Linked DNA regions of Homo sapiens. The protein of the gene in region 1 purifies or fractionates together with the protein of each later gene. This does not show direct contact. Each region holds a gene or a part of one and is shown in the gene's direction. Other genes may lie near its edges.

What was found. The genes of interacting proteins can lie anywhere in the genome.
Region 2: the proteins of ZBED3 (region 1) and NLRP7 purify together in Homo sapiens (co-immunoprecipitation; one study listed by IntAct). This does not show direct contact.

The regions. Positions count from the first base shown.
Region 1 is NC_000005.10:77,084,486-77,088,653, reverse strand, and holds the start of ZBED3 (zinc finger BED domain-containing protein 3), read left to right. Parts: upstream 1-1,368; 5' UTR 1,369-1,543; exon of another isoform or gene 1,544-1,939; intron 1,940-3,557; exon of another isoform or gene 3,558-4,168. UniProt on the Homo sapiens protein: Acts as a positive regulator in the activation of the canonical Wnt/beta-catenin signaling pathway by stabilizing cytoplasmic beta-catenin. Involved in transcription activation of Wnt target gene expression.
Region 2 is NC_000019.10:54,923,531-54,927,030, reverse strand, and holds part of NLRP7 (NACHT, LRR and PYD domains-containing protein 7), read left to right. Parts: intron 1-3,158; coding exon 3,159-3,291; 3' UTR 3,292-3,500. UniProt on the Homo sapiens protein: Inhibits CASP1/caspase-1-dependent IL1B secretion.

The DNA.
Region 1 (4,168 bases):
TTCAGCTGGGGACAGTTAGAGAATCCACCGCTGGACGGTTAAACTCCAGGGGAAGATCATCTCCCTACTCCACCCCCTTTCCAGCTCCCCATCCATCCTACTGAGTGCCACCCCTACCACCTAATAAACACCCCCAACCTTCCCCCAACTCCTCTACCCCCGCCCCCACCCCGGCACTCACCATCCTTCAAGTCCATGTGTGACCTGATTCTTCTGGGAGGTGAGACAAGAGCTGAGATACAGAAACTGTCACACTGACCCTCTGCGCTTGCAAAAAGGCAGAGGGTCTATTGAGCTGGTTAACACTTAAGCCGTCAGCTGATGGTAAGGCTAAAAGAGCACACTGTAACACACGCCCATTTGGGCTCCGGGAATCACGGGATCCTGCCCCTGGACACTGCCGTGGGGCTGGAAGCCCAGCGCCCCAGCTTTTGCACCCTGGCTCCTGCACCCGTCCGTCTGCATGCTCCACCTCCCATAAGGGGTTTCAGCAGGCAGAGACCGAACACACGAGCCACAACCCTGTTGCACGTCCTGCAAAGGGCTGTGGGAGGGCGGGGGCCGGGAGGAAATCAGGGAACTCTCCTGTTTCATTGTCACAAGACTTGCAAGGCTTCCTTAAGAGAGGGGTACACTTCCCCACCCACTGACAGCAAGTTTTGACCAATAGAAAGTGAGCAGAACTGAGGCATGCGGAATGTGAGTTTGGAAAGCAGCTTGTGCCAGTCATGTACAGGAGCTAATTGTTAAATTTCCAGGAACTTGGCAAGCCACTTGTTGGACTGTTTGTAGCTTGAAATCGGCCATTGTGGGAGCATTTACATCATAGAAATAGCAAACACTACATATCTGGACTTCCCCCTTCTCCCTCAAAGTTGGTTTACCAGCCCAGCAGGGAGCATGGCCCAGAAAAGTTGACCTTTCAGCCTGGAGTGAAGAAAACTGGTGGAGTACTGCCAAAGCTCCCTGCAGCCACAGTAATTCGCTTGAGAAATGGACCTTTAAGCCACTGAGTTGCAGGGGTTGTTCGTTACCTGAGCATCATCTAGCCAAAGCTGGTACACCATGCTGGTGTTTTGGTGAACACCAATAAGCGCCGCCTTCATCTGTCCCAACCTAGGTTGGAGGGATTTCTTCCAATAACTTGTGACATCATGCGCCTACAGCCTGCAAAGATGCAAACCGCGCTCTGAGACTCAGGCCCGGGAATTCAGGTCTTGGAAGGTTAATGCAAAGTTGTAAAACAATAGTTACATTTCAACCACACTCAGCTATTGCGTCATCTTAAAACCCTGGCCAACACAAATCTGTCGCTCGCGATCCTTGGCGGTTTCAGAGCGACTCCCCTACCGCTTTCGGGCGAAGGCCACACGTGACGGCCCCCCTTTCCCCGCAGACGTGTGAATGCAGCGCTGTGTCTTTAAGGGGCACGCGCGGAGGTTTTCCGTCCGGGACAAAATGTCAGCGAGGCGCCTGGAGGGGGATCTACCATCTCGGACTCCCGACCCGCCGCCGGCTCCGGCCGCGTTTCCCGGGTAAAGGGGTGAGTGTGGGCTTCCAGACTCGGTGGCGAGGCGGGCTGGGCCGGGCAGCGGGGAGCGCAGGTGAGCAGCGACCGCGGACGCCCCTGCCGGCCTCCCTGGCACCCGCGCGGGGCGTGCCCTTCGCTGGGCTGCCCTTCTCCGGGCCGGCTGTCGCGACTGTGAGAAAGCAGGTGGGCCCGGGATTCTGTGGCAAGGCCCCGCTCACCGTCTTCCAGTGCCTCATTCTTGCTCCTTCCCTGCACTCCTCTTTCGACAAGCTTGTTCGGAATGTGGAAATTCGTCACCACTCTCCTGCTCTCCCTTTATTAAAGTTGTCTGATTACAGTCTTTTCACTGGGCAAGTGACTGGACGCCCTGCAGTGGGTTCTTTCTGTAACTGGGACTTGCTTGATGTCGCCCACTTTCGGAGGGAGAAAGCGAATGCAAGCCAAAAGCTTACACCAGAATCCCCACCCCTCCCCCACCCCTCATGGCCCCCAAACAAAAGAATTTTCCGCTCCTTTCGGAGTCCGCTGGAGCAGTTTCTGTGATTTCTTGCACGAACCAAATGCCCGAGGCTTAGCAAAGCAAAAACCCCCTTGAAGGAAAAAAATAAATACTTACCACTAGTCGAATTTCTAATGAGCCAAGACTACAAAGATAAGGTGTTTAAGAGAAACAGTTGTAGAAACAGCTTAATACATTGACCTAATTAGGGTAATTATTTTCTGCTGTTTTTATTCATATGCTGACACCTTTTGGAGGCAAGAATAGCTTGAGGCAGCCAAGAATAAAAAAAAAAGTAGACAGCAATACGTATTATAAAAAGACCAAAAGCCCAAGCCAGGTAATTCTCAATTTAAAAATTAAATTAAAAAAATCTTTGAGTCACAAAGGCCTTCAAAGTAGGGCAGCTTTAAATTCCTATAACTCAGATTAAATTATGCATTTTTACAAGATAAAATGGATCACCACCTTAATCTTTAGGACCATATCTATTAAGCAAAGTAATGCAGACCTGAAATAAAGGTCCACTTTAAGGGCAGAACACTTCACAATTTTCATTTTTAAAAGTGCATTAATAGAGAGAGAGAGTGCTTCTCTGCCTTTTAGCTAATGGTAGAAATATCTAAGAGTTTGGCTTATGCCATTTAGGAAACAACTCTGATTCACCCCTTAATTACCTGTGAGTCCAGTGTATTTTTTACAGTCCACATATAACCTTTTTCTAAATTTTTACACATTTTACCATTTATTCCCCAACTCAGGTTTTACAGTTTGGAGGCATTTTTACTTGTCTTTTAACTTCAGCTAAGCCTTCAGCCTGGTGATTCCAGACTAATTTTTCTAATTGTCTGGATCTCTTTATAAATAGATTAATATATGGCAGTAAACTAATATTTCAACAGAGATGGACGGATAACAGATGAACTGTGGTTTTCTTGACACTTCAGTTGTCAACTCTAATTACTTGTATTAATTATTATGCTCTGCTTTCATTAAAGTCACTGGTGGATGAAGTAAAAGAAAATGTTTTTAGTGTTTCCACATATGTCTGTGTGAATTTCACGTTAGTGTGAATTTCTCATCTAAGATCCAGGCTCAACCAACATATATTGATTTAAACTCTGCCTGGTCAACCCAACTACAGTAAGTAGCCTTGAGTATAGAAGGACAAATAGAGGTGTAGTTAATCTGCTATGTCCTTTTGAGAACAGTGCCTGGTTCTTTGGCCTTTAGCCTGCCAAATATTTTTTATGTGCACAAGCATAAGTATAAAATAATACAATCAACTTTTGTAGGTGCTTTATAGGATGAGTCTCAATATTATAGTCATACCTTGTGTATATGCCCATGTTTATACAGATTATTCATCCAGGTTTTGATCTCTTCCTTTATTCTTTATATTGGTATTCAGGGACATCATACTGAGGAATCTGGGATTTAATCTGATAGTTCATCAGAAGGATAGAACTTCTTCAGAAATTGAGTCAAATGGAGAGATAATTAATGTGAATTTATTGTCTTCCACAGGCTTAGATTTAAGAACTCCTTCCAAATAATGGATACTCAAATGAAACTCAGCTATAGCAAGTGCAGAGGCATGGTACCAGCAACACTACTCTCTCTCCTTCCTTGAAATATCTAAAATCTACATTTGTCTTTTCAGTTTTTTTCACCCTGAAATTACACTCAAAAATTTCCACTGTTAATTTCATGTTAGCAGTGCTTTTATTTAGCTTCAAGAAACTTTCTTTTAAAATAGGAGCTTGGAAGCCTCGTTATACAACTGAGGAACTGGAACTTCATTAGAGTCGAGTACTAAGGGTAATGTGTTTTGGTGATGGACAACAATGCGTTTGTGCCCTGTGGGGCATGGGAGGGGAAGGGATGCTGAACTGCATGAACTTTTGTGTTAGGGCCCCTAAGACATCAGCTCCCAGGAGCTGCCCATGCCCACCCCTTCCCCAGTGGAGATTATGTGACGGAATTCACCCGAAGGAGTGAGCACTGATTTCACCTTTACCACAGTGTGTTAGTAATCTGTTTTCGCGCTGCTGATAAAGACATACCCAAGACTGGGCAATTTATAAAAGAAAGACGTTTAATGGACTTAAAGTTCCACGTGGCTAGGGAGGCCTAAC
Region 2 (3,500 bases), on another chromosome or scaffold:
GCAGCCTCCTTCTCACAGGTTGAAGCGATTTTCCTGCCTCAACCTCCTGAGTAGCTGGGATTACAGGTACACACCACCACAGCTGGCTAATTTTTTTTTTTTTTTTTTTTTTTTAAAGACAGAGTCTCTCTCTGTCCCCCAGGCTGGAGTGCAGTGGCGCTATCTCGGCTCAGTGCAACCTCTGCCTCCTGGGTTCAAGTGATTCTCCTGCCTCAGCCTCCTGAGTAGCTAGGATTACAGTCGCTCGCCACCACACCCAGCTAATTTTTGTATTTTTAGTAGAGATGGGGTTTTGCCATGTTGGCCAGGCTGGTCTCGAGCTCCTGACCTCAGGTGATCTTCTCGCCTTGGCCTCCCAAAGTGCTGGGATTACAGGCATGAGCCACTGCACCTGGCCAATTTTTGTAGTTTTTAGTAGAGATGGGGTTTCACCATGTTGGTCAGGTTGGTCTCAAACTCCCAACCTCAGGTGATCCACCTGCCTCAGCCTCTCAAAGTGCCGGGATTACAGGCGTGAGCCACTGTGCTCGGCCCTGGGATGGCTGTTTCACATGGTGAATTTCCCATGCAGAGAAGAGTTTTTTTGGGAGTGTGTGTACTCTTTGTAGGGATCAACTTAAGGCATCTTTCTATAGCACACTCCTAGCTTAGGAGATAATTTAAAAATTAGATACTTTTCTAAAATGCTCTGTGAATTGAATATTGTCCAACTTTCCCCCAAAACACTTAGTCCTAGGCATACTGAGAGTTTAAATCATCCTGGAGTACAGACTGGAAGCTTGTGTGTATGTGTGTGCATGAGCACACACACACACACACACACACCCCTAATCATTATATCCAAAAATAGGTAGTTCCCAGAGCTGTCCTGGGTCTTAGCTTTTCAGAAGATCGTCCTACAGATGCTCCCTTAGTTGTGACCCGTGTATATCTTTTCAATGACTTATTTGTATTTTTTATTTTTTTTTGAGACGGAGTCTTTTTTTTGAGACGGAGTCTGTCTTTTTTTTTGAATCTGTCTTTTTTTTGAGACAGAGACTCCAGTCTCTGTCGCCCAGGCTGGAGTGAAGCGGTGCGATCTCGGCTCACTGCAAGCTCCACCTCCCGGGTTCACGCCATTCTCCTGCCTCAGCCTCCCGAGCAGCTGGGACTACAGGCGCCCGCCACCACGCCCGGCTAATTTTTTGTATTTTTAGTAGAGATGGGGTTTCACTATGTTGGCCAGGCTGGTCTCGAATTCCTGACCTCAGGTGATCTGCCCACCTCGGCCTCCCAAAGTGCTGGGATTACAGGCGTGAGCCACCGCGCCCGGCCTCAGTGACTTATTTTAACGTAATCTACCTTTAGTTTCTTCTTGCCTTTGTCTTTTCTTTTCTGAGACAACGTTTTGCTCTGCTGCACTGTGTGGCCGTGTTGCCGAGGTTCTCAAACTCCTGGCTTCAAACGATCCTCCTGTCTTGGCCTCACAAAGTACCCGGATTGCAGGCGTGAGCCACTGTGCACAGCCCACTTGTCTTATTCAAGAGTTATTTTAGTTGTAGAGATGATACGCATGTAAACTGCTTCATGATGCCCAGTGTTGCATTATTGGAACGCTAAGCATGTGGGAGTTATTTATATCCTGCTCAAGGTACGATTTTTCACACGTCTGCAGTTCAAATAATTGTAACCTCTGGCATAAATGGGTTAAGGTTTTAGGGGTATATCATGAAACTTGAGCTAAATAGTGTCATGCTTCTCTTGTTGGTGGGACCGAGGTCTGTAATGCCACCAAGGACTATTGGTGACAAATCTCTAGCCCCCTGTGGTCTCTTATGTCATATGTTTGGGGCGTATTTCTTTTCTCATTCCTCAGTTCCTCCTTTGGGAGGCCAAGGTGGGAGGATTGTTTGAGGCCAGGAGTTTGAGACCAGCCTGGGCAACATAGCAAGCCAGTGTCTCCACAATCACCACCCCTCATGTTCACATACACAGGCTTGCATGCTGCAGCCACGTTAGAGCCAAGTTTGCTATCATTAACCCTGGGGTTCACTCTGGCATTCTCTTAGTTCTACTGAAGGTTTGATTTGCCACTATTTTTTATTTATTTATTTGGAGGCAGAGTCTCGCTCTGTCACCCGGGCTGCAGTACAGTGGTGCGGTATTGGCTCACTGCAACATCTGCCTCCCAGGTTCAAAGCGATTCTCCTGTCTCAGCCTCCTGAGTAGCTGGTATTACAGTTGTCTGCCACCATGCCCAGCTAATTTTTGTATTTTTAGTAGAGACGGGGTTTCACTATGTTGGCCAGGCTGGTCTCGAATTCCTGACCTCAGGTGATCTGCCCGCCTCGGCCTCCCAAAGTGCTGGAATTATAGGCGTGAGTCACCGTGCACCAGCCTGATTATCTATTTTTTAAATTTATTTTTTAAAGGCATGTTTTACTCTGTTACCAGGCTGGAGTGCAGTAGGGCAATCTCTAGCTCGTTGCAACCTCCGCCTCCTGGGCTCAAGTGATCCTCTTGCCTCCGCCTCCCGAGTAGCTGGGACTATAGGCGTGCACCACCATTCCTGGCTAACTTTTTCTATTTTTGGTAGAGACAGGGTTTCACCGTGTTGCCCAGGCTGGCCTTGAACTGCGGAGCTCAAGCAATCTGCCTGCCTTGGCCTCCCAAAGTGCTGGGACTACAGGTGCGAGACACCGTGCCTGGCCATAATCTTTTTTTTCTTAGACTTATAAGGATCCCCATTGTGTGGGTCTAAATTTCTTTTTAGAAAACTTTTCTGACTGGGTGCTGTGGCTCACATCTGTAATCCCATGGCTTTGGGAGGCCGAGGTGGATGGATCACTTGAGGCCAGAAGTTCGAGACCAGCCTGGCTAACATGTCGAAACCCCATCTCTACTGTAAATACAAAACTTAGCCAAGCGTGGTGGTGCACACCTGTAATCACAGTTACTCAGGAGCCTGAGGCATGAGAATTGCTTGAACTTGGGAGCTGGAGGTTGCAGAGAGCCAAGATGGCACCACTGTACCCCAGCCTGGGCAACAGAGCAAGACCCTGTCCCCCAGAAAATCCCAAAAACGTTTCCTGCTTTGAGTGTTTGAAAACAGATATTCAGGCATCCTGGGTAGTTGAGAATGAATTTCTGGGAACATTTGTGTTCTCTGATCCCTCCAGGTTGAAGACCTATGAAACTAATTTGGAAATCAAGAAGCTGTTGGAGGAAGTGAAAGAAAAGAATCCCAAGCTGACTATTGATTGCAATGCTTCCGGGGCAACGGCACCTCCGTGCTGTGACTTTTTTTGCTGAGCAGCCTGGGATCGCTCTACGAATTACACAGGAAGCGGGATTCGGGTCTCTAAGATGTCTTATGAATGCAGGTCAGAGGGTCACATGTTAACACTAGAGTCTGTCGAGAGGTAGGATTTGACACTGGTTTTCTCACTATTTTTGGGAGATTCTGCACGAGTCACGCACCCCCTTCACATGACGCTATGTACTTTCTCACAGGGATAATA